Linked DNA regions of Homo sapiens. The protein of the gene in region 1 purifies or fractionates together with the protein of each later gene. This does not show direct contact. Each region holds a gene or a part of one and is shown in the gene's direction. Other genes may lie near its edges. The genes, in order: RFX3, NUP155, VPS45, MINDY3, CFAP20, CC2D1B and FOXJ3.

What was found.
Region 2: the proteins of RFX3 (region 1) and NUP155 purify together in Homo sapiens (affinity purification with mass spectrometry, with the first as the bait; one large-scale study listed by BioGRID). This does not show direct contact.
Region 3: the proteins of RFX3 (region 1) and VPS45 purify together in Homo sapiens (affinity purification with mass spectrometry; 2 studies listed by BioGRID and IntAct, with this or other methods). This does not show direct contact.
Region 4: the proteins of RFX3 (region 1) and MINDY3 purify together in Homo sapiens (affinity purification with mass spectrometry; one large-scale study listed by BioGRID and IntAct). This does not show direct contact.
Region 5: the proteins of RFX3 (region 1) and CFAP20 purify together in Homo sapiens (affinity purification with mass spectrometry, with the first as the bait; one large-scale study listed by BioGRID). This does not show direct contact.
Region 6: the proteins of RFX3 (region 1) and CC2D1B purify together in Homo sapiens (co-immunoprecipitation; one large-scale study listed by IntAct). This does not show direct contact.
Region 7: the proteins of RFX3 (region 1) and FOXJ3 purify together in Homo sapiens (affinity purification with mass spectrometry, with the first as the bait; one large-scale study listed by BioGRID). This does not show direct contact.

What each region holds. Positions count from the first base shown.
Region 1 is NC_000009.12:3,256,787-3,260,767, reverse strand, and holds part of RFX3 (transcription factor RFX3), read left to right. Parts: intron 1-3,568; coding exon 3,569-3,777; intron 3,778-3,981. UniProt on the Homo sapiens protein: Transcription factor required for ciliogenesis and islet cell differentiation during endocrine pancreas development. Essential for the differentiation of nodal monocilia and left-right asymmetry specification during embryogenesis.
Region 2 is NC_000005.10:37,304,948-37,308,928, reverse strand, and holds part of NUP155 (nuclear pore complex protein Nup155), read left to right. Parts: intron 1-1,496; coding exon 1,497-1,632; intron 1,633-3,718; coding exon 3,719-3,872; intron 3,873-3,981.
Region 3 is NC_000001.11:150,077,600-150,081,580, forward strand, and holds part of VPS45 (vacuolar protein sorting-associated protein 45), read left to right. Parts: intron 1-69; coding exon 70-180; intron 181-3,742; coding exon 3,743-3,877; intron 3,878-3,981. UniProt on the Homo sapiens protein: May play a role in vesicle-mediated protein trafficking from the Golgi stack through the trans-Golgi network.
Region 4 is NC_000010.11:15,780,508-15,784,488, reverse strand, and holds part of MINDY3 (ubiquitin carboxyl-terminal hydrolase MINDY-3), read left to right. Parts: exon of another isoform or gene 1-2,255; intron 2,256-2,262; coding exon 2,263-2,334; intron 2,335-3,522; coding exon of another isoform or gene 3,523-3,612; exon of another isoform or gene 3,613-3,981. UniProt on the Homo sapiens protein: Hydrolase that can remove 'Lys-48'-linked conjugated ubiquitin from proteins.
Region 5 is NC_000016.10:58,112,858-58,116,483, reverse strand, and holds the end of CFAP20 (cilia- and flagella-associated protein 20), read left to right. Parts: intron 1-331; coding exon 332-443; intron 444-1,026; coding exon 1,027-1,215; intron 1,216-1,428; exon of another isoform or gene 1,429-1,563; coding exon 1,564-1,674; intron 1,675-2,453; coding exon 2,454-2,459; 3' UTR 2,460-2,892; downstream 2,893-3,626. UniProt on the Homo sapiens protein: Cilium- and flagellum-specific protein that plays a role in axonemal structure organization and motility. Microtubule inner protein (MIP) part of the dynein-decorated doublet microtubules (DMTs) in cilia axoneme, which is required for motile cilia beating.
Region 6 is NC_000001.11:52,355,781-52,359,761, reverse strand, and holds part of CC2D1B (coiled-coil and C2 domain-containing protein 1B), read left to right. Parts: coding exon 1-57; intron 58-227; coding exon 228-303; intron 304-404; coding exon 405-512; intron 513-604; coding exon 605-735; intron 736-1,003; coding exon 1,004-1,076; intron 1,077-1,300; coding exon 1,301-1,431; intron 1,432-1,845; coding exon of another isoform or gene 1,846-1,863; coding exon 1,864-1,981; intron 1,982-2,063; coding exon 2,064-2,236; intron 2,237-2,635; coding exon 2,636-2,761; intron 2,762-3,319; coding exon 3,320-3,378; intron 3,379-3,459; coding exon 3,460-3,576; intron 3,577-3,917; coding exon 3,918-3,981. UniProt on the Homo sapiens protein: Transcription factor that binds specifically to the DRE (dual repressor element) and represses HTR1A gene transcription in neuronal cells.
Region 7 is NC_000001.11:42,332,113-42,336,792, reverse strand, and holds the start of FOXJ3 (forkhead box protein J3), read left to right. Parts: upstream 1-1,557; 5' UTR 1,558-1,734; intron 1,735-1,837; exon of another isoform or gene 1,838-4,680.

The sequences.
Region 1 (3,981 bases):
CAAGAACAAAGTTTCTCAGCTTTACAAAACCATTTACTTTACATATTTCCGTGGGATGTATTAACTGAATAAGCAAGAGTATTAAAAGTTAATATTGCCTTAAAATCTATACTGTAATATTTATTTCAAATCTTTTTTCAGAAAAGATTTGTTTAAAAGTCTCTTAAGAAGAGTTGAAGAAGTAAGGCAGCTTCTAGTTTCAGAAAGTAATTTAAACTCAGTAACAGAAAACATTTTAAAGAATTATTTATAATAATATCCGAAAAAGTTTTTCAGTGTTCTGTTAGCATTATTATATGTATAAATACATATATATATATTTGTGTATCTGCATTCCAATGAAGTATTTCTACAAATGAGTTCTTCCCTGGTTATAAGCATTAACCTTGGGAACATTTTTGCATATTAATGATCAGTGATATGTCTACTGTACGACTTATCCTCTACCTGCCAACTTTAAGAATACCCTTTCTTTTCCTCTATTTTTGACTATCATGTTTTTCTGGGTCCACCATGATAGCCATTACTCCTGAAACCCATATGATTCGGCATCTGCCCTCCAAAACCTTCTTCCTTTCTTCAGAGTACCATGACACAGTAGTGAGCCCTTCATTTCCCCCTACATTTTACTTTTCACAGCTCTGTACATATTAATGAGTAATCTCTTTCTCAAGGTAGCACTTTTCCTCTTTAACACCCTTATTTCTTTCCTTTTCTTTTCCTAGTTTTGCCAGATTTTCCCAGAGTCCCTTGCCTCCCATTTTACCTTTATCCCCATCTCCAGTTCATTTGGAAGTCGTCCCAGCTTCTATAACATGAACCTCAATAATCTGACAATATAAGAATGATGCTCTTGTAATAAGGAGACTTCTATTTAAAACAATGAAATTACATGTGTGTCAATATTATAATACACTTAAGAGCTTGAAAGTGCTAAAAAGTTCCTTTCAGGATATCCATATATCACTTTTCACTACTTCATTCTCCTCTAATTAAATTTTCTTTTCTTTATGCATTTAAGATAATTTTTCTATTGCAGTATAACTGGTTTCCTGTTTCATTTAATTGATAGTATTACGATGGCATAATTCTCTAATTTTTTGTGTAAATGGTGGTTTTTGAGATCTACATTATGGGCTAAATAGCTTTCGGTGGGCTGACCTGATAACTTAGCTATTGCATATAGTTGTGTTTCTGTATTTAAAAGGCATTCTGATTTTGAAGTTCCTGACTACTTTTCATTTTGGATATTTTTTTTTTCTAATTTAAGAACATCTCTAAGTGTCCTTAGCTTTTTTAATTATAGACTTGAAATATCTACATTCGTTTCACAAGGGAATATTTACAATGCGCTCTATTGTTAGTATATTTTCACTTTAGAGAGTAGTAAAATGAAGTATAATATAAAGTAGTTTGAAAAGCCAGAATAATGTGCTGTGGTTTTATTTCTCTAAGTTAGGTTTTAGATTATCATCTTTTCTTGGCAAAAACTAACTGCCAAGTAAATAGTGAGTTTGAATTTATGGTAAGAAATGAAATTAAATTCCTTCATGGATACTAGTAAGTTTCTCCTTCCAATTATCAACGTGCAAACAAACAAAAAAAACCTCTCCTGCTAATTTCAGCTTTATTTGTAATACTAAAATGTTGGAACAAACAAATGTCTAACTATGTGGGATTGGTTATGTAAATAATAGTATATGATGCAATAAAACAAATTCATTCAGTGGACAATGAAGATAGGTCTAATTTGCCTACATGGAAAGATGGTTATTAAATATTTCTAAGTGAAACTAAGCAGAATATCTAATAGAAAATATAATATGATCCTCTTTTATTTTAAACATTTAAGTATGTATAAGCATATAATAATATAAAATGTATGTGTAGATATATGTGTTTTATAATACAAATATATATTTAAAATATAAATGTATGCATAAATAATATAGTGTATATATATGATGATATATGCATAAATTATTTCTATATGCATGTGAAAAGTTTGAAAGGTACATACATCAATATGCTGTAATTTCTTACTGTTGCCATTTTAAGTATTCTTAATGTTTTGTTCCTTTTTTGCTTATTTGTATTCACAGTTTTTTCTATAATGATATTTTAGTATACTTAAAATATTTAAAAGTGGTATTCAGAAGGTAACATCTGAATGGATTTATGATTAATTAGATAAGAGGAAAAAAGACAGTGAATAGTATCATCAGCTGAGATATAGAAGAAACAGTAGGTTTCCCTGGGAAAATAAAATAAGTTGAGTTTGGGGCATTTTGCATTTGAAGTGCCTTCAGGTTGAAATGTCCCTTGAATAGGTAAAGTCTGTAGGATCAGGAGAGATACTGGAACTAGAAGATGGAGATAATGGATTTATTCAGTTGAAGTTGTTAATTTGAATGAACTTGTTTTTTGAGAGCATATAGAAAAAGAAGCTATAGACACTCTTTTGAGAAAAATACATATGTATTCACAAGGTTTTATTAGGAGCCTCACAGACACTTCTCCAAAGAAATCTATCTTGACAAAATTATCTGGACACAATGAACCCAGCTTAAAATTTTTCATTAAATTTCATTTCTTTAATTTTATGCTTAGGGAAACTGAGGCCCACATAAATTAATTGCTTGAGGTTAGTTTTGTTTATTCAGGACCTAACACCTATGTCTTCTCATTCCCAGTCAAATATTACGTTACCAAAGAATTATGTTTTGCCTTGAGTGAATAGGTTTTTTTAAATCTTAAAATACAACATAGCACTGGAAACATCACAGTACTTATGGCAATCACTGAAAAGTAGCCTTAAAAGTTCCTATTTTCATTGCTGTTACCAAACATTTCCCAACCAGAACCAGAAGGAAAATTGCAATAATCACATTTTTTGGCAGGAAGCACGTCTACATTTTCTCAAGAGTTTTTGTTGTTGTTGTTATTGTGGTTTTCATTTCTCTGAATTAATTTGCATTCATAGCCTTGCCTTGATAGCCCTTGAGATTTCTGTTCCCAATCCATATAACTCACAGCAGCATATGCTTCTACCTAGTATCATTTAGTGTTTGTTTCTGTTTTAATCTTGAGGGGACCTCTTTTGGCCAATTTTATCTATTTATCTGTCTGACTTACCCTAAATCTTCTCAAATAAATTGGTTTTAAAGTTTTATCTGATGGGGAACAAAAAGACAACTTCTGAAAGCAGTATGAAAGCTGAATAGGATGAAAGACCCTGCCTACTGTAGGTTCAGACTTCTATTTTTTGAAGTCATCATGTATTTTAGTCTTTTACACAGACTAGTTAATGTAGAAAAACCAAATGATACTTACATGTGTCATCACTTTTCTGTGTACCAGAGTGAGCAACGAGAAATACTCATCCCTTAAAACTGATAAAGATTGTGTTACCCTAACAATTGACAAGTAGTTTTTTATTTTCTGGATTCATTTAACTGTGTGAAGCTTTTATTATAATTTTCTGTTCTTGCATCTAGTGTGTGTGCTGGCATTCAATGAAAGGATGCTGAATTGAACTTTTCCTTTTCTTTCTGTGTTACTGTCTCAGGAGCAGGCTTCCTGGGTGTGCCAGTGTGATGACAACATGGTTCAGAGACTAGAAACAGACTTCAAGATGACTCTTCAGCAGCAGAGCACCCTGGAGCAGTGGGCTGCGTGGCTTGACAATGTGATGATGCAAGCACTGAAACCCTATGAAGGAAGACCCAGTTTTCCTAAAGCCGCCAGGCAGTTTCTGCTAAAATGGTCTTTCTACAGGTATCATCTAGGTTTTTCCTAGGCTTTCTTCTTCATATTCTGCAAATATGTGTGTGTATGTGTTTGTATATGCTTCTGTGACAAAAGAAAAGAAAGTAATAAAGACTTTAGTTTGTGGAAACTCCCTGTTACAACTACCTTCAACCCAACTCAGTGATTACAACACCATGGAAATGTACCAGGAAACTTAGAGAAATAAACTTT
Region 2 (3,981 bases), on another chromosome or scaffold:
ATGTTCTTTCTATTTTTTGAAATGTACTTTTTTTTTTTTTTTTTTTTTTTTTTGAGAGTCTCGCTCTGTCAGCCAGGCTGGAGTGCAGTGGCACGATCTCAGCTCACTGCATCCTCTGCCTCCCAGGTTCCAGCAATTCTCCTGCCTCAGCCTCCCGGGTAGCTGGTATTACAGGCGCACGCCACCACGCCCAGCTAATTTTTTATTTTTTTATTTTTTTATTTTTTTTATTTTGAGACAGAGTCTTGCTCTGTCACCCAGGCTGAAGTGCAGTGGTGCGATCTCAGCTCACTGCAAGCTCTGCCTCCCAGGTTCACGCCATTCTGCCTCAGCCTCCCAAGTAGCTGGGACTACAGGCGCCTGCCACCATGCCCGGCTAATTTTTTTGTATTTTTAGTAGAGATGGGTTTCACCATGTTAGCCAGGATGGTCTCAATCTCCTGACCTCATGATCCACCCACCTCAGCCTCCCAAAGCGCTGGGATTACAGGTGTGAGCCACCGCGCCCGGCCATTGCCCAGCTAATTTTTGTATTTTTAGTAGAGGTGGGGTTTTACCATGTTAGCCAGGGTGGTCTCGATCTCCTGACCTCAGGTGATCCACCCATCTCAGCCTCTCAAAGTGCTAGGATTACAGACATGAGCCACTGCGCCCAGCCGAAATGTATAACTTTTTAGCATTAGAGTTTCAGTTCTTGTCCAGTTCAATTACTGTATGTTTTACATTGCTTTCTGGATTACATTTATTTTTCAGATATTTAAAATTTTTTATTGAGTTTTAAGGTATAATCTGCTTACTTTTTAAAAAATTACTTTAAATCAAATCTAACATAATGTAAAGGCCATAACTATTTGCACAGGTATTATTTTGAATCCCAAGGTATTTTTTTCCCCCCAGTAGGGAACTAAAACTTTCCTTTTTGTTATTTGAAATAGGATCTTTTTTTTCCAATGAAGAAATATATATATATATATATTTTTTTTTTTCCTTTTTCTTTTTTTTTTTGTGAGACAGAGTCTTGTTCTGTCACCCAGGCTGGAGTGCAATGGTGCAATCTCAGCTCACTACAACCTCTGCCTCGCTAGTTCAAGTGATTCTCCTGCCTCAGCCTTTTGAGTAGCTGGGATTACAGGCGCATGCCACCAGGCCCAGCTAATTTTTGTATTTTTAGTAGAGGTGGGGTTTCACCATGTTGGTCAGGCTGGTCTCGAACCCCTGACCTTGTGATCTGCCCCCTCTCAGCCTCCCAAAGTGCTGGGATTACAGGCGTGAGCCACCACACCTGGCCCCCAATGAAGAAATATATTTAACAGTTGCCTTTTAGGCATATTAAGACCTTTTCCTTCTGAAGACCTATCAGAAATATTTTATGTTAGCAGGGTGACTATTGTACAGTAGAGACATAACCTTGATCATTATTTTCATGTGCCAGCTAAGGAAAAATGTATCCAACTTAGTAGTAAGTCATAGGTCTTCATTCTTTTCTTTCCCATCAGTGAGATTTTATGAGGGTGTGGTGGAACTTTCTCTTACGGCTGCAGAGAAAAAAGATCCTCAAGGTCTTGGGCTTCATTTCTATAAACATGGAGAACCAGAAGAAGACATAGTTGGACTTCAGGCCTTCCAAGAAAGGTGCATTCCATTACGTTAGCAGATTGTCATCTTTATGGATACAGACTTTTCTTTGCATAATGTTTTTTGTTTTTTGTTTTATGTTTTTTTTTTTTTTTTGAGACAGAGTCTTGCTCTGTCACCTGGGCTGGAGTGCAGTCGTGTGATCTTGGCTCACTGCAATCTCTGCCTCCCAGGTTCAAGCTATTCTCGTGCCTCAGCCTCCCATGTAGCTGGGATTACAGGTGCACACCACCACGCCTGGCTAATTTTTGTATTTTTAGTAGAGACAGGGTTTCACCATTTTGGCCAGGCTGGTCTTGAATTCCTAACCTCAAGTGATCCACCCACCTCAGTCTTGCAAAGTGCTAGGATTATAGCCATCAGCCACCGTGTCTGGCCTCTTTGTGTAAAGGTCGACCACCCAAAGTGCTGGGATTACAGGCATGAGCCACCATGTCCAGTAGGATTTCATTTTAAAGGATAATTTTTAAGTATTCCCAAATTTGTTGAGACTGTTAAAAAGGAAATGTGTGTCCTTAAAAGAAATATAGGCCAGGCACAGTGGCTCACGCCTGTAATCCCAGCACTTTGGGAGGCTGAGGTGGGCAGATCATGAGGTCAGGAGTTCGAGACCAGCCTGGCCATCATAGTGAAACCCTGTCTCTACTAAAATACAAAAATTAGCCAGGCGTGGTGGTGCACACCCGTAATCCCAGCAACTTGGGAGGCTGAGGCAGGAGAATTGCTTTAACCCGGGAGGCAGAGGCTGCAGTGAGCTGAGATTGCACCACAGAACTCCAGCCTGGGCGTCAGAGCAGGGCTCCGTCTCGGAACAAAGAAGAAATATATAACCTTTCTATAACATATATATATGGAGGGTGTTTTGTTTTGTTTTTGTTTTTGTTTTTGAGACAAAGCTTCACTCTGTCTCCTGGGCTGGAGTCAGTGGCACCATCATAGCTCACTGTACTCTTGACCTTTTGGGCTCAAGTGATCCAGTGATCCTCCTACCTCAGCCTCCTGAGTAGCTGGGACTACAGGCACATGTCACCACACTCGGCTAATTTTTTTTTTCTCTTTAATTTCTGTAGAGACAGGGCCTCACTATATTGCCCAGGCTGGTCTTTAACTCCTGGGCTCAAGCAATCCTTTCTTCTCAGCCTCCCAAAGTGCTGAGATTAGAGGTGTCAGCCACCACATCTGGCGAAAACATATTTTTTTATTACTATATTTAATGACTTTACCCTTTTAATGTTTAACCAAACACTTCTCAAACTTATTGAAAAAGTATATGGTTTGTATTATTTTAAATGCCAAATATGTACATCTATTCTGCCAAATAGTCTTGAAATCCTTGTATATACTTAGGTAAGGTAAATCAATGGCTTTCTTTTTTGTTATTTGTTTTGTTTTGTTTTTGGGGGGTTTTGTTTTTTGTTTTTGAGACAGGGCCTCATTCTGTTGCCTGAGCTGGAGTGCAGTGGCATGATAATAGCTCACTTGCAGCCTTGAATTCCTAGGCTCAAGCGATCCTCCTGCCTCTGCCTCCCAAGTAGCTGGGATTACAGGTGCACACCGCCACGCCTGGTTAATTTTTTGTTTCGTTTTGTTTTGTTTTTTGTTCGTTTGTTTTTTGAGACAGGGTCTTGCTGTCACCCAGGATGGAGTGCAGTGGCATGATCTCAGCTCACCTCAACCTCTGCCTCCCAGGTTCAAGCAATTCTTGTGCCTCACTCACCTGAATAGCTGGCACTACAGGCATGCACCACCAAGCCCGGCTAATTTTTGTATTTTTGTCAGATACGGGGTTTCACCAGGTTGGCCAGGCTGGTCTCAAATTCGTGACCTCTGGCAGTCCCCCTGCCTTCGTCTCCCAGAGTGCTGGGATTACAGGTGTGAGGCACTGTGCCCAGCCAATTTTTTTGTATTTTTTGTAGAGACGTGGTCCCGCTCTGTTGCCCTGGCTAGTCTTGAACTCCCAGCCTCAAGCCGTCCTCCTACCTTGACTTCCCTATGGCTGGCATTACAGGCGTGAGTCACCACACTTACCATCATTTGCTTTCTAGTTAAATAATGTAATTGTTCCTTTTCCATTTTCTTTCAGATTAAACAGTTACAAATGCATTACAGACACACTTCAAGAACTGGTAAATCAAAGTAAGGCCGCTCCTCAGTCTCCCAGTGTACCCAAAAAACCTGGTCCTCCAGTGTTGTCATCTGATCCAAATATGCTGAGTAATGAAGAAGCAGGACATCATGTAAGGGACATAGTATATTTTCATTCTGAGAATACACTGTTTAGAAGTTCTCCATGGTAATGGTAGCACAGTCATCTTGGGGAAAGGTGGTAGTTCTTAGAAGTTATCA
Region 3 (3,981 bases), on another chromosome or scaffold:
TTTCCTATTTATATCATTTCTATATGTAACTAGATGGTTGCACAAACCATCTTTCTCTCTCACCCACAGCAAGTGATAACTAAAGAATATGAACTGTTTGAATTCCGTCGGACAGAGGTTCCTCCATTGCTCCTTATTTTAGATCGCTGTGATGATGCCATCACCCCATTGCTAAACCAGGTACAAAACCCTTTCTTGGCATAATAGAAGGATAATTTTAAGTGATATTCATCAAAATACAGATAGGGAAGTAAAAACATGGTCCATTTATTTGCCTCCTTATTTTTAGCTATTCTTGGTTTTGCTTTGTATTTCCTGGTGTTTTGGTATCATGATTCTTCCATCCACTGTCATCATAACTCTTCTGCTTCATCTCTCCTGTACCTTTCTGCCAGTACCTCCACCCCTAATCAAGACAGCTTCTTAATTCTGTAGATTCTATTTCCCTGTGTTTCCTTCTGTCTCCTCATTTCCATGCTTACAGCCATTGCCTTGGTCTAGATCCTAATCTCTTGCAAGAATATTGAAATAGTCATCTACTTCGTTCCCTACTTTTTATTTCTTCTCACTCCAAATGTTCCACAAGTACAATTTCCTAAAGCACAGCTCTATCTTATTACTCTTGGCTTAAAAAACTTCATTGGTTCCCATTTGCCTACTAGGTTAAAAAGAAACTCCTGAACTTGGCATCCAAGAGCCTTCACAATGTGGGCTAAACCTCTTATAAAACCTAGAGTTCACCACTTACATAGATAATGCCACATGGTTTCCTGCCAGCATGCTTTTACTGTGACTGCTTTCTAAACTCTAGAATGTTTGGAATACCTTCTCTTCCCATCTTCACCTATCAAAATACTGCTGTTAAAACCACTCAATCTGGCCGGGCACGGTCGCTCACGCCTGTAATCCCAGCACTTTGGGAGGCCAAGGTGGCTGGATCACCTGAGGTCAAGAGTTCAAGACTAACCTGGCCAACATGGTGAAGCCCCGTCTCTACTAAAACTACAAAAAAATTAGCCGGGTGTGGTTGCACACACCTGTAGTCCCAGCTACTTGGGAGGCTGAGGCAGGAGAATCATTTGAACCCAGGAGGCGAAGGTTGCAGTAAGCTGAGATCATGCCACTGCACTCCAGCCAGGGCGACAGAGCAAGACTCCGTCTCCAAAAATAAATAAATAAATAAATAAAATGATTTATATGAATAATAGCAAAGAATAAAAAAAAGAAGAGCCGGGCGCGGTGACTCACACCTATAATCCCAGCACTTTGGGAGGTCGAGGTGGGTAGATCACCTGAGGTCCTGAGTTTGAGACCAGCCTGGCCAACATGATGAAACCCTGTCTCTACTAAAAATACAAAAAATTAGCTGGACGTGGTGGCAGATGCCTGTAATCCCAGCTACTCAGGATGCTGAGGCAGGAGAATCACTTGAACCTGGGAGGCAGAGGTTGCAGTGAACCGAGATCATGCCACTGTCCTCCAGCCTGGGCAACGAGAGCGAAACTCTTGTCTCAAAAAAAAAAAAAAACACTCAAAAGCCATCTCCAACATCCAGCCATTCTTCAACATCTCGAAGCCTGTATTCTTTCAGTCAGATATTGTTCTTATCTCCTGAAAATCCCTGTAGACTTGTAGACCTTTGTGTCTCTCTCATGTCTCATGCTGTACTTGCCATGTTGTAGCTTTGGTTGTTTACATCCTCTCCTACGTTACATATTTCTTCAAGGCAGACTGAGTCTCACCAGTGTTTTTTCTCCTTCAAGTATAAGAACAGTGCACATAGCGGGTGCTCTATTAATAGTGATTTTGTATGTGTGTATGTATTTATTGAGACAGAGTCTCTCTCTGTCACCCAGATTGGCGTGATCTCAGCTCACTGCAACCTCCGCCTCCCAGGTTCAAGCAATTCTCATGCCCCAGCTTCCTGAGTAGTTGGGATCACAGGTGCACACCCCCACACCTGGCTAATTTTTGTATTAAATATTTTTAGTACAGACAAGGTTTCTGTCTAAATATTGGCCAGGCTGGTCTCGAATTCCTGACCTCAAGTGATCTGCCCGACTCGGCCTCCCAAAGTGCTAAGATGACAGGCGTGAGCCACCACGCCCGGCTGTGACTTTGTATTTACAGAGAAAGGCACAGTCTATGTTTCAGTTTCTTCCCAGCTTGTACTAATGTTAATGCTAAGGGAAATCTGTGGAGTGAAACTTCTCTGTAGTATAAAATAGCCTTGTATTCCTAAAATTCAAAGTAATATATGTTCACCAAAGAAACTTTTGATAATATCAAAAAGTAGAAAGAAAATTAATTGCCTATTATTCTGTCTCCCAAAGAAAAGCAACTATTTATCCCACAGATTTCACTGGGGACTTCTTTTGTGCCACGTACTAAACTAAGTACTAGAGATAAAAGGTTAAAAGTTACAATTTCTGTCCTCAAAGAGCTCATGGTCCAATTATGAGAAAAATAAACATAATTTTAATTGTAGAGTAAGTGCTAGAAGCATGTACAAGAAGCTATCCATAAAAGCATAAAACATTTTGTTGTACGTTTTTTTTTTTTTGAGATGGAGTTTTGCTCTTATTGTCCAGGCTGGAGTGCAATGGTGTGATCTTGGCTCACTACAACCTCCGCCTCCTGGGTTCAAGTGATTCCCTGCCTCAGCCTCCTGAGTAGCTTGGATTACAGGCATGTGCCACCATGCTCGGCTAGTTTTGTATTTTTAGTAGAGATGGGGTTTCACCATGTTGGTCAGGCCGGTCTCGAACTCCCGACCTTAAGTGATCCACCCACCTCAGCCTCCCAAAGTGCTGGGATTACAGGCATGAGCCACCATGCCCAGCCTTGTTGTACTTATTTTAAGTGCGACTTAATGGAACTTGCTTTTTCAAGAATTCCTTTGGCAAATCTTTTAGGAAATAAGCACCTTCTTTTATAACCTTCTAAATTATTTCTTAATAAATCTAGTTTTCTTAAGATAAAATATGTATATAAATATTTCTAGCATTTAGATTCTAGATGCAGAAGGGAACATGCTAGAAAATACTTCATTTTGTCTAACAGACCTATGACTGAAAGTAATCTATTCTCCATAATTGGTGAAAAGGGAAAATTTGGAGATTTCTCATTTCCAGTTTTACCAAATAAATTCTCAATTTGTGAGACTGGAAACCAGTCCTTCCTCTCATCTCCCCTTAGGTAAAAATATAAAATAAAATGGGTTCAAAGGTAAGTTTCTGAATATCCCAGTGTTTTGATCAACTCACAAGGTTTTTCTGATAATATTAGTGTTCCCAGGACAAATATAGTACCACTCAGATCTGCAAGAACACACTTCTCATGCTGCAGAAAACCATAGAAGCATACAGGAAATGGTACAGCTTGTAACTGCAGTACCAATATAGCTCTATCTGTGAAGCCAAAAATATACTCTTAATTCACAGGCAAAAAATTGGAGCTAATAATAGCTCTAATTTGTTTTCTTTCTATCAAGAATATTAATCTTGCTGCCCTTTTTCCAAAAGTATGAAATCTAAAAGTATTTTGACTTTTCTTCAGTGTTTAATCAATTAAAATGACAGTCTTAATGCTTATAGCACAAAGTATGAATAAAATTTAACTCGAGAATCTTCATGTAAAGAAGACTAGTTAAAGAATGTTATCAGTTTTTATTTGTTTTCCTGAACGTTTACTATTTCCATATTCTGTCAGTTACCTTTTTTTTTCATAATTCTTTATTTAGTGGACATATCAGGCCATGGTCCACGAACTACTAGGCATAAACAACAATCGGATTGATCTTTCCAGAGTGCCGGGAATCAGTAAAGACTTAAGAGAAGTGGTCCTATCTGCTGAAAATGATGAATTCTATGCTAATGTAGGTGGTTTAAATTTTTTTAAATTGTCTTTAGTTGTTTTTATGTAAGAAGATCAATATTGGCTTGTTAGTATAGGGGCAGGCATGGGATTTCATGTGAAAGG
Region 4 (3,981 bases), on another chromosome or scaffold:
ACAGGTATGAGCCACCTCACGAGGCCCAGTAAACATTTATTTAATCAGCCACAAATAAATGAAGTTGCAAAACTGGAGTGACAAGGACAGCCAGGAAAATATTTAACTTCGGTAATCTTTACAATGCTTCAAGTAGGTCCTGTGGAAGAACACTTATTTGCTATGATGTAGAGGCTGATGCAGGAAGAAAAAAGTGGTAATATTTATAAGCTTTTCAAGACCATTCGTTTAAATAAGAATAGCAGAAGCAGCTCCCCTTTCCCAAGCACATACTCTCCATCAGGCACTGTGTGCCTTCCAAACACCATACTATTATCTTCCCCATTTTGACAATGAGGAAATTGAGGATTAGAGAACTTAAGACGATTGTTGAAGGTCATACACTAGGTATCTTAGTAGCTGATTCAGGAATTTTTTGACAATGAGGAAATTGAAGATTAGAGAACTTAAGACAATTGTTTAAGGTCATACACTAGGTATTTTAGTAGCTGATTCAGAAATCCAATATAGTCTGTCTAACCACAGAGTCTATGCACTTTACCAGTGGGCTACACTACTTTTTGTTGGTATTTCTGTATTTTATGCCAGTTAATTACTGGAAATAGGGAATATAAATTATATTCAGTTACAGGAAAATGGTTATTTAAGTTCAAATAATTTAACTCTGATAGCCAAGAGTCAAATTATGTAACTAATTGCAATGACTCCTGTAATTAAGGAAACGATCAAATTGATTTTTCTATTTTCTGTAAGGCATTTTGAGTGGGATACAAAACAATTTTAGGCTTTAGTTGGGAATGTAAGACATGAAAAATTAAACAGTCTTTCAAAATAATAGAAGAGATGATACAAAGTAGTACTATATGATTCCTTCTCAAATTATTTAGACAATTGTTATGATAAAGGTTAAGTTCCAGTGTAGTAAAAAACTAACTAGTGTGTCCAGGAAAAACTTTACAGAAAAAGTAAGATTTAAACCAGGTCTGGAAAAAGGAAGGAGAGGAGGGCATTTTAGAGAAGAGTAAAAAAAAATCATGAATGTGCAAAAGGCCAACAAAAGATCTTTTCATGATGAAATGAGTCATGCTTGTCCAAAACAGAATTCAGAAAGGTGAGTAGTTGGAGATAAGACTAAAAAGGTAGATTAAGCCCTGTATGATTTTAAGACTCATGATTGCAGGTCACAGAACCTCAGCCTAAATTGGCATAAGTGAGGGGGAAAATACATGAAGGGGAAGGAGTAGCTCAGGTGAATTGAAGAAGCAAGCACCGGGAAAGTGCTCCTGGAGTCCTTGAACAGCACTGGGAGGTCTCCACCTCCCATCCCCTGTCTCTAAAGTGGCTACATTCTCACAGCCTATCTTTCTGTAGGAGCTGAAGCTCCAGTTGCCAGCAGCTGTCTTCCCTTAATTCCAGTTGGAAAAAATTCTAAGGAGGGCCATGTGCCTGTTTGTATCCATCGGATATGGCCAGGAAGACAAGGGGGATCTATCCAGGCAGACTCAGCCAGGGGCCCTGAGGGAAATCACTGGGAGCCAGGCCTGTAATGGCCTTGAACGCCAGGTTAAGAGGGTTGAACGTGATCTTTAGCTAATTGAAAAGCAAGGTTAAGATAGTGGGAATAACATGACCCATTTTTCTACAAGCTTACTCTGTTAGTGATATATAGGATATCCTTTCTTTATTGAATATTACTGAAATCGCCTTAAGCATTATAAGTATGTTTTCATTTCTCACAGTGCTCTTTTCACTAATTAATGGTTGACAATATTCAAATATTGGATATTTTTTGGAAAAGAAACCACTAATTAAACATCGTGGGCCAAATTGGAAGTATTGGTACATACTGGAAGTGTATTTAGTCTGAGTAAAAGTGATGCTACTGCTTTTCTCAATTCATTGAGAGGAACAAATTATTTACATAGAAAAGGAGATATACTTTAGCAAATGTTTTAGAAGCTTGTCTTTTGAAAAAAGTTATAGTGATACATGCACATAATTAAAAAAAAAATAAGTTAGTTCTGAAGAGCTTATAATGGAAATCAACCTTCCCTACTTTCCAGCATCTTCTTCAGAGGCAACACTTTCAACTTCAGGGCTTTCTGGTAGTTACAACTCCATAAACCTAAGTTCCTTCTTTTGTCAAATGAGTCCCCAGTCAAAGGATAAGGATTTGAGAAACATGCATTTTACTTTCAGTTGATTAGAAATTGCCTGATATAAATATAATTTAAAGTGTTAATAGTCCTTTATTTATAATAGGGCTCCAGTGGTCCAGAATCTTTTACTGTCTACCACTACAATGGATTGAAGCAGTCAAATTATAATGAAAAGGTATGATAATTCACGTAGTCGTCGGTGTTCAACTGGGTTGATGAAATAATTATGTGAGTATGTAACAATGTTCGATTCCCGTACAATTGCTACCTAAGATTATTCCAGGAGTCTCTTTACTATGAGGACACATTTTAGAATCAGCCATCTTTGGATTTGACCAGTATATGTTAGTCTGCATTGGAAACTGACATTGGACTTCAGAGCAGTAGTTTCACCATGACTAAATACACCCCCATACAGATCGTTACCCTTGGCAGTGTAGCGTGTTTCTAAATCAACATCGTAGTTAGTCCAGTGAAAGTTGTTACTTATCCATTTAAAGGAAGAAAGAGGTAACAGTGAGACTTTTTACTGGAAAAAATATTTTTAAATAAATAACCTTCATAGTCAGCATATATTGAGCATTTACCCGAAATTGTATTAAGTACTTTGCTTAAGTTTCACAGCACCTTATGAAGGAAGTGTTGTCTGTATATCTCCATTTTACAGGTCAAGCAGCCAGGAAATGACAGAGCTGGGAGTGAAACTTAGTCCAGCTCAGAGACCATGCTCCTACCCATGATGCTTTGCAGCTTTCCTTTGCTAACCGTTGACAAAGCACATAGGTGATTCACTGCCAGGTGTACTCAACCTGGCGTAAAGCTAGAGTTCGGCTGCATTGATTTCCCCTTTTTGTGTGTCTATTATCTTTGCATTTATTCAAGTATGAGTTACAGTACATACTAGTTATAGTATATATATATATATATAATATATATGTATTAGTTATAGCTAATATTAAAGGAATAAGGTCTAACATTCCTTTTTAATTTGATCTGCCCATGCTGACTTCATGTATCTAAATTGTGGAAGGTTACAGAAAACAGTGTAAATTAAGTACATAATTTTAATTAGACCAAATCTAAAAGACTAAAATTTACTGCTATCTTTATAACAAAATATAAATTAGATGTTTTTGTCAGGTCCAAAGATATATATATACAGCATCCAAATTTTCTTGACAATGTATATTCTTTGCATGTATATATATATGCAAACTTGGATGTTGTTTTCTAATGTGCGAATGAGTGCTTCATCTAGAGTTTGATGTTTGCACAGCTTTGTAATAGGAGGTACTTTATAATCACTAATTATTCACCTACACAATCCCTGCAAGATAGGTCAAATATTATCCATATTTTACAGATGAGGCATCTGAGACGGGGAGATCAAGTGACTCACCCAGGGTCACACAGCAAGTCATTGGCAGAACAGGGATTGGAACTGAGTTCCTGATTCCCAATCCTGTCCTTGGTCTGCTTGGCCACTCTACCTGTATGTAGTATAAGTTTTCAAATCATGTTTGTGACAAGCTTCTGACACACCAACAAAAAGATTAGAAAACAAATAGGATGAACTGTTAAAATGACAGTAATATACAGCAGCTATAAAGCAAAGTATGGATGTCATTAAGTCACAGAAATATGTTTTGAAGTTAATCAGGAGCTAAAATTATAAGCTGCATAGCAAGGTCCTGTTAGAAAGGAAACAGACAAAAGGAGAATGCTGGCAAAGTGAGATGGAGTCTGAGCCGCCAGGCATCCGAGCCTGATTGAGGCCATGGAGGTGGGTCATGGCACCTTGCCCAAGCACTTCTGCTCTAAT
Region 5 (3,626 bases), on another chromosome or scaffold:
AGGTCTCAGTTTTGGTTTTCTGTCATTCGATGGCTCCCCTGGACCAGAATTGAGGTCTTCTCTCACTGGAGGAGCTTCTAAGATCCACTGTCTGGCTTTGTTTTTCAGATATTTTATTGCTGCTGTCTAGTCCTGTGTTAAGCTTTTGTTTCTGGGTCCAGCGTTTGTTAAAGCAGCCGCTGACTTAGGGCTGAGGGATTCACTGGGTGGCGTGTCTGAATCTTTTAGATCTGCTTTCCAGTGTATCCTCTTGGACCGTGTGTTATTGTTGTGCATACCACAAAGGAAGAGAGTCCAGGAGTGTGTTTATTAGTATTTCCTCTCTCTACAGCACCACATATATCACATGCCCTGCAGACCCCAAGAAGACGCTGGGAATTAAACTTCCTTTCCTTGTCATGATTATCAAAAACCTGAAGAAGTATTTTACCTTCGAAGTGCAGGTAAGTATGTGTACATGAATGTGTCCACTCTTGGCTATACCAAAGTGATAGCCTTTGAACTGATGGGAAAAAGTGACCCTACAAAGTATCTTTATCCTTTTGCATGTATTCTTTTCTGCTTCTAGTATAAGCCCAGTGCAGTCCTTGTTATGTAAATTTGATATTAGTAATAAAATTTAATCAGGTTTTTAAAGAAACAGCACCTAGAAAACCTAGTAATTTCAAAGTGTCAGAGTTAGCGTGGTATCCATTTGGGGAGTGATTATTTAATAGTGGGTGGCTGTTCTGTTTTAGTATTTCTGATTTTTCAAAAGGAAGAACATTTATATACTCTATGGTCTGAGAGCCTGCTGACTGTGTTATATGTCATAAGCAGCTGGTGTTGTCTTGGCAACAAACAAGATAAACTTGCTACTTCCGGGCCATCTGCATGCAGTGTATGACCTGTGTCTGGTCTGTTTATTTTCCTCTAAGTCTCAGCCTTGGGAAAGCAAGCTGTGGGAATTCAGGTCCTTGTCTGGACAAGGTTGTGTGCTTCTTCCAAGACAGAGCTAGTGTGATGCTTCTTCTCTGTATTTCACAGGTACTAGATGACAAGAATGTGCGTCGTCGCTTTCGGGCAAGTAACTACCAGAGCACCACCCGGGTCAAACCCTTCATCTGCACCATGCCCATGCGGCTGGATGACGGCTGGAACCAGATTCAGTTCAACTTGCTAGACTTCACACGGCGAGCATACGGCACCAATTACATCGAGACCCTCAGAGTGCAGGTACTGCTCCTTTCCCAGATAGAGCCCTGGGTTGGGGATAGGGCACACTGCGTCTAATATTGGCTTGTGGCCCACATAGCAGAACAGTGTGGGTTTCTGGCTTCAGTTGCCACACTGTCCAGGGAGCTTTGGCCTCACAAAGGTCCAGGAAATATTCAGAAGTCGGGTCAGGTATAGAGGTGAATACAGCAAGTAAGACCTCCCTCTTGCCAGAATCCATCCCTAAGACAAGCCAAGGAGATGCCGGAGATGACGCGTTTCCAGTCCTGGAAGAGGGCCTCTAGAAGATTCAGGAAAAGGGGGAGAACAGTCACATTTCGCCTCTCAAAAGAAGCATTGCCTTGACAGATCCATGCAAATTGTCGCATCCGACGGGTTTACTTCTCAGACAGACTCTACTCAGAAGATGAGCTGCCGGCAGAGTTCAAACTGTATCTCCCAGTTCAGAACAAGGCAAAGGTAAGCCAGTCTTCCCCAGAGGAAGGTCCACCAGTGAGTGGGGGGAGCTGTGTTCCTGGAAGGTGCTCTGGTCTAAGAATTCAGCTGCAGAGCCTCTCTGTGTTGACACTTTGGGGTGCCTTTATATCGCAAGATCTTAGGTCTCCTTCCAGCACTGAATCAGGAATGCTCCTGTGAAATACTCTGTTACTGCTGTTTCCCCTCTCCACGGTGAGAGGGGATGAGGCACTTCCTACTACTGGCTCACAGAACTTCAGAAAATATCTTAACTTTTTTTTTTTTTTGAGATGGAGTCTTGCCCTGTTGCCCAGGCTAGAGTGCAGTGGCACGATCTCAGCTCACTGCAACCTCTGCCTTCCAGGTTCAAGGGATTCTTGTGCCTCAGGCTCCTGAGTAGCTGGGATTACAGGCGCCTGCCACCATGCCCAACTAATTTTTAATTTTTATAGAGACGGGGTTTCACCATGCTGGCCAGGCTGGTCTCAAACTCCTGACCTCAAGTGATCCGCCTGCCTCGGCCTCCCAAACTGCTGGGATTACAGGCGTGAGCCACCGTGCCCAGCCCCATCTTAACTCTTAATCAGCCCAAAAGTATTATCAGCTGATAGGTCCCTGCTAACACAAGGGTGGGTGCTTCCCTGCCTGTGTGCTGCAGATGTGTGTCCATTCTCCACAGTCACTGTCCACTCAAGTGTCACCAGAGGCAGGGGGCCTGTGACACTGACCATCTATTTTCTAGTAACTTAAACTGATGCCACTTCTCTGTTTTTTCCCTTCAGCAATAACTGGAATTGTGACTCGAGGGATAGACCCCTGGATGTGACTCTTCTTTTTAAAAGGAAACTATGTGGAGGACGATGCAAAAACATATTTATCTTAGTTTGCTCTGCTGTAGTTCTGTTATTTATACTTGGTGTTGCTTGTCATGGACACCGGTGAACATGCCGTAACTCTGTGACTGCATTGTAAGTGCAGTGGGGGTAAGCAGTCCTGTGAGTGGCGCATGAACGCTGGAGCTTATTCCGCCGCCTGCCCCAGTGTGGGGGGAGATACCTTTACCATGAACTTACAGAATTAAAGATGGCCCATAAGGAATTCCAGACCAATATTTCTTCCTGCGGTTTATTCTATGTTTTATATATTATCTAAATATATGTATATGCTGTGTCATACTCATAATCTGGAAATGAATAAAGTGATATATTCCTGGTTTGTAAATTTGTTCCTAGTTTGTCTTTTTTCATGGTGATGTTTGTTTCCTTTGTGATATGAAAAGAGAACTATTTCCATTGAACATCTTATACATTTCATGCTGTGAAATGTCTTGTATTAAGTATCTAAAGAACAAGACATATTATGCAGCTGACCCTTGAACAACACAGGTTTGAACTGTGCGGGTCCATTTATATGAGGATTTTCTTCCACCTCTGCCACCCCTGAGACAACAAACCAGTCCCTCCTCCTCTCCCTCCACCTCCTCCTCTTCCCCTCCTCATCAATGTGAAGACAACAATGATGAAGACCTTTATGATGATCCACTTAATGAATAGTAAATATATTTTCTCTTCTTTATGATTTTCTTAATAACGTTTTCTGTAGCCTACCCTATTGTGAGAATACAAAATACAGTATGTAATTCATACAAAATATGTGTTGAATGGCTGTTTATATTATCAGTAAGGGTTCTAGTCAACAGAAGGCTATAGTAGTTAAGCTTTGGGAGAGTCAAAAGTTATACATAGATTTTTGCATAAGGGGGTCGGTGCCTCTAACCTCTGAGTTGTTCAAGGGTCAACTGTATAAACTGGTTCAGAACAACTTTGAAGACTAAATGGGAAAAAAAAAATAGTATGTGACCAGTGGAATCATCTTGCTAGGGGTTGGGTCCTAGGTTGAGCTTAAGACAGAATGACATAGTCTAAATTGCACCTAAAGCATTGGAGCAGATCACC
Region 6 (3,981 bases), on another chromosome or scaffold:
AGTGCCAAGCGGGCTGGAGAGCTAGACCGTGCCCGAGAGCTCATGAGGATTGGGAAGGTATGGCATCTGGCTCAGGGCACCCACCCTCATTTTATAGATAGGGGAAACAGGCTCAGAAAGGGAGCTAGACTGAGATTGAGTGAGATTGGCCTAAGTGGGGGTTGTTTCAGCCCAGGCTCTTGGGGTCCCCTGTCTTTCACCCACACCTGCTTTTCCAACTTCTGCAGAGATTCGGTGCTGTCCTGGAGGCCCTGGAGAAGGGGCAGCCCGTGGATCTGAGTGCCATGCCCCCGGCACCTGAGGGTCAGTATGTATCTTCTCAGGCTGCGGTGGGGTTGGGGAGGAGTAGCAGGCCTGGGGCTGGCCAGGCCCTCCCACCTACACCTCTACTCTGGGTCCCCCAGATCTGAAGCCCCAGCAGGCTTCTCAGGCTCCCACAGCACCCTCAGTCATTCCCCCAGCCGTGGAGCGAGTGCAGCCAGTGATGGCCCCTGACGTCCCAGCAACCCCAGGTAGGGCAGGATGGTGGGACTGTGGCGTGGGGACCTGCAGGCATTGGAGGGCAGGCTGACCTGATGCCCACTTCTTCCTTCTTTCCTTCAAGTGGCCCCTACAGAGTCACAGACAGTGCTGGATGCCCTGCAGCAGAGGCTGAACAAGTACCGCGAGGCGGGCATCCAGGCCCGGAGTGGTGGGGACGAGCGCAAGGCTCGGATGCATGAGCGCATTGCCAAGGTGGGCCCGCGGCTATGCAGCCCCTGCCTGTGCTGGCCTCTTCCCTGGCTGGGTGCTCTGTCTCCCTGGTCCTCCGGCTAGTCCTTGTCTTTTCTGAACCATCATCTGTTTGTCTCTCTGGGGCTCTTGCTGCCTTAGGGATCTTTTTTTCTCCCAGGGCTGCTGTCTTCCCACCAGTCTCCCTCTCCTTGCCCCACTGTGTGTCATGTTGGGCAGGGGGCCTGTGGGCTGCTGCCGACCACAGGCCCCTCCCTTCCTTCCCTTGCAGCAATATCAAGATGCTATTCGAGCACACCGAGCAGGACGGAAAGTCAACTTTGCTGAATTGCCTGTTCCTCCAGGTAAGTGGGGCATGGCCTAGGGGCTCTGTGAGGAGGTGGTCCCTGGGCAAGAAGGGAATGGGGGACAGCCAGTGATTCCCACTTCTCATGCGTCTGCCTCCCCTCTGTGGAGCCATCCATCCCAGCCATGCCCCAGCAGAGCCATGCCCCAGACAGGGCCCCGGGTAGCTTTGTGCTTCTCTGAGGCTGCTCCCTGCCCCTCCCATGCTGTCTCTCTCCCACAGGATTTCCCCCCATCCCTGGCCTGGAGTCCACTATGGGTGTTGAGGAGGACGCAGTGGCAGCGACATTGGCAGCTGCAGAGAAACTGGCCTCTGCAGAGGATTCAGCCCCGGCTGATAAAGACGAGGACGAGGTTTGGTTGAGGGCTCAACTCCAGGGCTGGTGGGGAGAATAGCAGGTGAGGGGTAAACCCAGACCCTGTTGTCCATACTAACAAGCCCAATAAGGTACATATTCTTTCCTCCACTGTACAGAGAAAAAACTTGCCCAAGGACACCCAGCTAGGAAATAGCAGAACTAGGATTCAAACCAAGGTCTTTCTGAACCCAGAGCCCCGGCTCCATCCCCATTACCCTGCAGTCTCTCTCCTGCTGGGGAGGTTAGATGTGAGAGCTTCTGAGGCTGCTTCTAGCTCTCAGATCTTTTAGGACCCAGGAAGAGAAGCCACCCATCTCAGGTCACACAGCGATGTAGTACAGTGTTAGGAAGACAGCCCAAGTCTGGGAGCCGCCATGACTATGCTAGGGAACACATCCCCTCCTAACAGCCTCCTGGGCACCTGCAGGGTGAGCCCCCAGCACAGGCCCCAGTGGCCAAGAAACCTGCACGGCCCACAGTCCCTTCATCCCAGCGCCTGCCTGAGCCCAGGGCCTCAAGTTCTAAGGAGTCACCGAGTCCATCTGGTGAGTTGGGGACAAGCAGGGTGAAGAACTGAGGGCCTAGAGAGGGCAGGTGTGGCCCTAACCAGTGGCCTTCTCCCTTCAGTGCGGGAGCAGCTGGCACTGCTGGAGGCACGGAAACTGCAGTATCAGCGGGCAGCCCTGCAGGCCAAGCGCAGCCAGGACCTGGAGCAGGCCAAAGCCTATCTGCGGGTAGCCAAATGGCTTGAGGCTCAGATCATCCAGGCCCGATCTGGCAGACCTGTTGATCTGTCCAAGGTGAGTCCCACCTGGTTAACCACCAGGACTTCTCAGGCGGAGGTGGCGGCTGGCAGGCTTGACAGGCTGTGAACAAGGGCAGCTTCTGGGATGAGGCAGGGTTTGGACAGAGCATGATGACAGCTGGGAAAGAGCCTTTTGCTCATACTCCTCTACCTCACGGCCCCAAAGGAAACCAGGAGAAGGGAAGGTGGGCTGCCTGTGGTCAGAGATGACAAGGCTGGGCCAGGCCATGGGAGGCAAGAGTGTTATTTTGGGATAGAATGGGAGGCGATGAGTTGTCATCACTGGACTTTAGTAGAAGCTGAAGAATTACTTAGTTTGGGCTCCTGCCTTTGTTGGACTTGGTAGAGGAGTAATCTGACTCTTGGGGCCCGAGGGGCCTTGTGACCTGGGTAGGTGCCTTCGCCCTTGACGGATGAGGAGGGTGACTTCATCCTCATCCACCATGAGGACCTGCGACTCTCCCAGAAGGCGGAGGAGGTGTATGCCCAGCTGCAAAAAATGCTTCTGGAGCAACAAGAGGTCAGCAGGCCCCTCGTCTGTTCCTCCCCTCTGTGCCCACAGCCTCCCCGTGGAGGAAGACCTGGAGCTCAGACCACACAGCCCTGGACTCAAAATTCTCAGCTCTTCCACTTACTCACTGTGTGACTTGGGCAAGGCACTTTCTTCTCTGAACTACATTTTCCTCATCTATGAGATGGGGTGATAATACCCCTTTCAGGGTGGTACAAACAACAGAGAAGAGGGAAAGAACATTGTGATGTGCGTGTATGTTTATGTATTTATCTATCTGAACTGCCACCTGTTCTGGAAAGGCTGCCTTCTGAGGGGATGTTTGAGTTAGGTTTTGATGGAAGGAGTTGCTAATTTGGGGAATGGCTCTCCTCAGAAGAGAAAATGACAAAAGTGTAGGCAGAGAAACGTGGTGGGACTTGGGAGTAGTGCCCTTGGGGCTGTGTTGTGGGAGGAGAGAGGTGAGGCTACAGAGGAAAGTTGAAGCTTTGAGAAGTCTAGCCTTGAATGCCAACCAAGGCAGGTCCTGCTCTGGGCTCGGGAGTCACTCTGGGCCTCTATTTTCAGAAGTGCCTGCTGTTCTCCAAGCAGTTCATGCACCAGGGCAACGTGGCTGAGACCACCCGGTAAGTGCAAGGGCTGGGGCTGGGCTCATAGGGTGGGGAGCAGAAAATCCACCATCATGCTGACATACCCATCCCTGTCAGATTTGAGAAGCTTGCTCAGGACCGCAAGAAACAGCTGGAGATCCTGCAGCTGGCCCAGGCTCAGGGCCTCGACCCTCCCACCCACCACTTTGAGTTGAAGACATTCCAGACTGTGAGGTACCAAGGCCTAGGGAAACAGGGGCTCCAGGCAGGGAGGGGCAGGAGGCTGGGAGCCCAGGCCAGAGACTGCTACCCCTTTAGTGAGGCTTCCCAAGCCTGGCCCCGCTGTGGGCACTGGGGCTGCTGAGGACGACAGGGTGCATGCTAGTGGAGAGCGCACAGCTGTCTGGGTGCTGTGGAAAGAGCTCTGGACCAGAAGTCAGAGATCAAGGTCTGCATACCAGCTCTGCCTTCCCTCCCGTCACCACCCAGCTGGGCAGACAGGCCCTGGACGAAGGGACCTTGTTCCACTACTGTCCTTCACTTTTGAGCATTTTCTCCTTCCCGCTTGGCTCTAGGATCTTCTCAGAACTCAACAGCACAGAAATGCATCTGATCATTGTCCGGGGAATGAACCTCCCA
Region 7 (4,680 bases), on another chromosome or scaffold:
ACAAAAATTAGCCGGGTGTGGTAGCGCGCGCCTGTAATCCCAGCTACTTAGGAGGCTGAGGCAGGAGAATCACTTGAACCCGGGAGTTGCAGTGAGCTGAGATCGCGCCACTGCACTCCAGCCTGGGCGGGAGAGCAGGATTCCCTCTTAAAAAAAAATTGCAAACCCCCTTCCTCCAGTTTTCCTCATACCCCTTACCCTGGTGTATTTTTTTTTCCCCATATGCCTTCTAACATATTACATAATTCTCTTACATTTATCATCTTTCTCCTTATATTAGAATGAAAGCTCCAACAGGGAAGGGTATTTGTTTTCTCTCTCTCTTCTGTTTACTGATACATCCCAAGCACTAAAATAGTGTCTGGCAACCTTAGTAGTGATTGGCAAATATTTGTTGAGTGAATGAGTACATGAATCTTCAGAATCTTGCTAGTCTTATAAAGAAAAGGAATATGTGAATACTTTGAATCTCCAGTGCCTAGAAATGCTTGACCAAACGGCAGGTGTTCAATGTTTACTGAAGGAATTGTGTGCTCAGATCTGCTGGAGGTCTTTATCTGAACCCTTTGAGACTATGTCAAAAAAGTACCCAGGGCCAATTCACTCATGCCTCTCCTTTTCCTCTCATCCAATCAGCCTAGTATTCATCTAACAAATATCTAAGTCTCCAAATATTGAGCCACCCATTGTGAGTTCAAAAGCGTGTTTGGCGCTGCAGGGGAATATGTGACTAACGCGAATGAAGCAACAGCAAATACTACACTGGAATGTAATTAAGTGTGAAATTATAGGGCAGATTATCAGTGCTAATAGTTTAGAGAAAGAATCAGTGAAGACTGACGTAGAAGTAAATTCCAAAGTTCACTCGTCGACCAAACTACCCTTCTAAACGCTCCACCTACTGATAGTAGTACCATAACCTGGGTAGCTACCTTGAGAATTAGAAGGGCCTTTAGAGGTCCAACTCCTTTAAGAAAGAAAGAAAGACCAGGCACGGGAAAGGCCTCCGCAGACATGAGTCTAGCACCTGGGACTCATGAAGTTCTGAAAAGAGGGGTGTCCTGAAGGTCCAAGGCGCCTTTGTTGGGGGTCCCGGAATCCGCGGTGTGCCAGGTCGGAAAAGGCGTCCGCTTTCCTGGAGAGGAGGCTAAGGTGCCGGGCGCTTCGGTGAGGTGGCGGATGTTGGGGGGCGGGGGAGGGCAGAAGGCACCATTCCTTCGGGGCATGGGGCCCCAGGTATCCGTGGGCAGGGTCCAAAGCCACCGATCCCTACTGTCCTCAACTGCGGGGTTGCCTCCGCCGCCTTTGCTCCCAGACGCCACTCCGAGGCACAAGGACCCCAAGTCGCTCGGAACTGCCGGCCGCTAGATGACACCGGCTGCGCCGATGCAGAGCCTCGGGAGTCTCAGGGCACTACTTGTCCCAGCGGAGGGATCCTGCGTGCGTCGAAGCGACCGTGACCGCGCAGGGACTTGACGCCGCTGACGCCGGGCCGGCGGCGCAGCGACGCCGCAGGAGGCGGTGGCGGCGAGGGCGGGCGGGGGATGCGGGTCGGGAAGTAGTTCCGGGTGCGCGGCCCCGGATGTTGGCTGCTCTTGCTGCCGCCGCCGCTCTCGGGGCTGCTCGGGGCCTCGACCGCTCGCAGTAGGCACCGTTGGGACCTTTCCCGGGGGGGCGGAGACGCACGGAGCGGCCGGGGGCTCGGCCGGGCCGTCCCGGCCTGCGCAGCCTGAGGTAAGTGCCCCCCGCCAGGGCGGCCGGGCCTGGGCGGCGGGCGAGGAGGCGGGGCTGTGGCATCTCCCGGGACGGAGGCAGGGGCTGTCCTCCGCGAGACGCCCTCTCTCTTCCAGCCGCAGCCGCGTTGCGGGGTGGGCGGCGGGTGGGGCAGGGGGCCTGGGCCCCGGCTGGGGCCTGGCGGACGCCGAGGGCTGGGTCCTTCCCTCCCCCGCGGCGCTTCTCAGCTGCTGCTGCCCCTCAGCTGGGAAGCAGCGGCTTCGCGTCTCCCGCCCCTCCCCCAGGCGGGGCACCGGGGAACCAGACGTGGATCCCGGGGGCGCCTAGTCCGAGGGCAGCGACCGTCTCCTTCCCTCCATGACCTGTCCCTTGGCCTGGGCTAGCCCCCGACCCCGGCACTCTGCGGCTTCTTCCCTTTAAGCTTGGGGGCGCTTTTCTGCCGGCAGGGCGGGCTGTACCTCACGCCTTGGAGTGGCCCTTTGGGGAGAGGAGGCCCATGCGAGGGTGCTTGCGTTCCCGCCCATCCTGTGTCTGTGTCCTTTGCTGGGATTAGGGCAAAGGCAGCCGTTCCATGCGGACGTGTTGCTGTCCTGTGTGTGTTGCATCCTGCCCACGTGGTAGAGTGTCTCCCGCCCCCCCTCCCAGCTCCATTTTTGCAGCTGGTGAGGAGGGAGGTTAACGGGATGGTTTTTCCTCTGTGATTTCCTCCGGGTGGCGTGGAAGGTGTTAGGGTCAGTTTGCTTTGCCGAGGCCGGCTGTTGGTTAGATGAAGAATCGAGAGTTGTACTCTGAAATTGAGGCCAGTAGGGGACATAACAGGGCTTAGTTTCATTAACATCTTTTTTCCTCTTCCATTAGCTGCTCTTATTCTTTTCTCTGTTGCTTAATTATAGAGAATAAGCGCTTGCTACCGATGCATTCAGGTGTATAGTTTTCATTTCTCTGTTTTACTTTTTGTGTGTCTGGTTAGCAAAGGTTTTACTATTCCGTGTTGGTGCATTCCACGTCTGTGTTGTCCCTGGTTGGATTCCTGAATGAGTTAGAGCCATTCACTCTAATTCCTGAAGGAGTTAGAGATTGGTGGGCACCTTTTTGGTCTTTTTCTGAGATTTATTTGTGTGTGTTTTCTTCCTTCTATTTTGTTTCCCAGTGAAAAAGCGTGATGTCATAGGAGCGTTATATGCATAGCTCTTTTTCTCACAAGGCAGCACTAGTTTCACCTAGTCACTTATTTTGTAGAAGCTCTTTTACTTCACTTTTCCTCTTACTCTGTTGAGTACCCATTGCACACTCTTTTTTTGAAACTGGTTTGAAACATGGTTTGAGTAGTTTTTTTCTTAATGTCTCTTCCAGATTAGGGTTTCCATCTTCTGTTTTGCTGTTTTGAGACCACAGATTGTTCCCGCAATAACAGTGAGAGAAGCCTATTCCTCCTGGTCCCTAGCAAATATTTATAGAAAAGCAGTAACTCCTCTCTTTTTCTGAGTGGTATATATTATATAGACGTGATTAAGTTTTTTAGTTTCTTAGATAAATAGGAGGATTTCTCTTTTTGCTTTTGTGTCTCAGAATTGAGGTGAATCTTCTTGGTTTTGTGCTGCCGAGGACAAAACTGGGAAGTTTCTCATGCTTTCATTAGATTTTTTTTGGATGAGGCTAGAACGTGTTTATTTTGGCTCTTTTTTGTTCATTAGTTTGGGTAAAATAAAAAAACTTAATGTTTCAAAGTCACTTACTAGATTCCAAAGTGGCCTGCATTCTCACTTTTTCACATTGTACATTCTTTGAGTATATTTTTGACATTTTTTTCCTTTTATCTGGTACAGTTCGTATATTCCCTTTCCTTCTATGTAGAATGAAAATATTTAAATATAGATTTTAGATTATATTTTTTCATTATGCTAAGTATGGGTGGGGCAGTGGAAAATGGAGAATGTTGTTCTGATACATACTGAGGCTTTTTGTTTTTTTTTGGTAAGTCAGCATTTGTGTACTTCTGTAAAGTACCGAGTTATCTATGTGTGAAGTCTGTATGAAGAGACGAATAAGATACGTGGTCTCTTGGAAAGCTTCAACTTATATCGAAAGAACAGAGTTTCTTTTTCTGTTCGGGAAACATGTACATCATTCAGAATTATCAAACTGCATCAAACTTCTCCTTGGGATAACAGTACAACCAAGGTCAAAAGTGTAAGGGACATTTGAGAAAGATACAAATTTCCAAAGGGAAAGAGGTGTATTTCAGGAGAGTGAAGGGGCCTGTGCAAAGCGAGAGAAGTGGCAATGTACAAATGATATCAAGGAGCTTGACTGTCAGATCATCTGTGTTGGTGAATAATAATAAATGAGTTTAGGATTGGTGAGGGGGTATTGATGGAGGATCTTTCAAGGATAGAGGGTTTAGTTTGATAGGGTACCACAATGGGTTCTAAAGAATGAGAGTAAGATGATGCATCTTGTTCCTGAGGAAGGTTTTTGTTTCAGCTGAGTGTCCTGGGAGTGGAGAGACTGATTAGAGTGCTTATGGAGAATTTTAGGAATAAGCTGATGAGGGTCTGATATAAGATAGTGGTTGTAGGAATAAAATAATAGCTAACATTTACTTACTGTATGACAGGTATTCTAAGCGCCTACGTTTGTTTAATTCATTAAATCTTCATAATAAGGTATTAAAATCAGAAGGGACTTTGGGCAAGTTGCTTAACCTTATGCATGTAATTATTCCCATATACAATGAACGGTTAGATGAAAGGTAGATTTTGCACTGACCAGGGATATAGATGCTAGTAAAACACATCAGTAGATGTGTGTTGGGAGGGTAGTAGTATAATGAAGAAAGAGCTTTGAGGTTTGGAATTTTGGGTCTTGAAATAGGCTAATAGCATTCTGAGAAGAACCAGAAAGTGCATCATTTCCAGGATAGGAAGATTTTCTACAAGGGCAGGG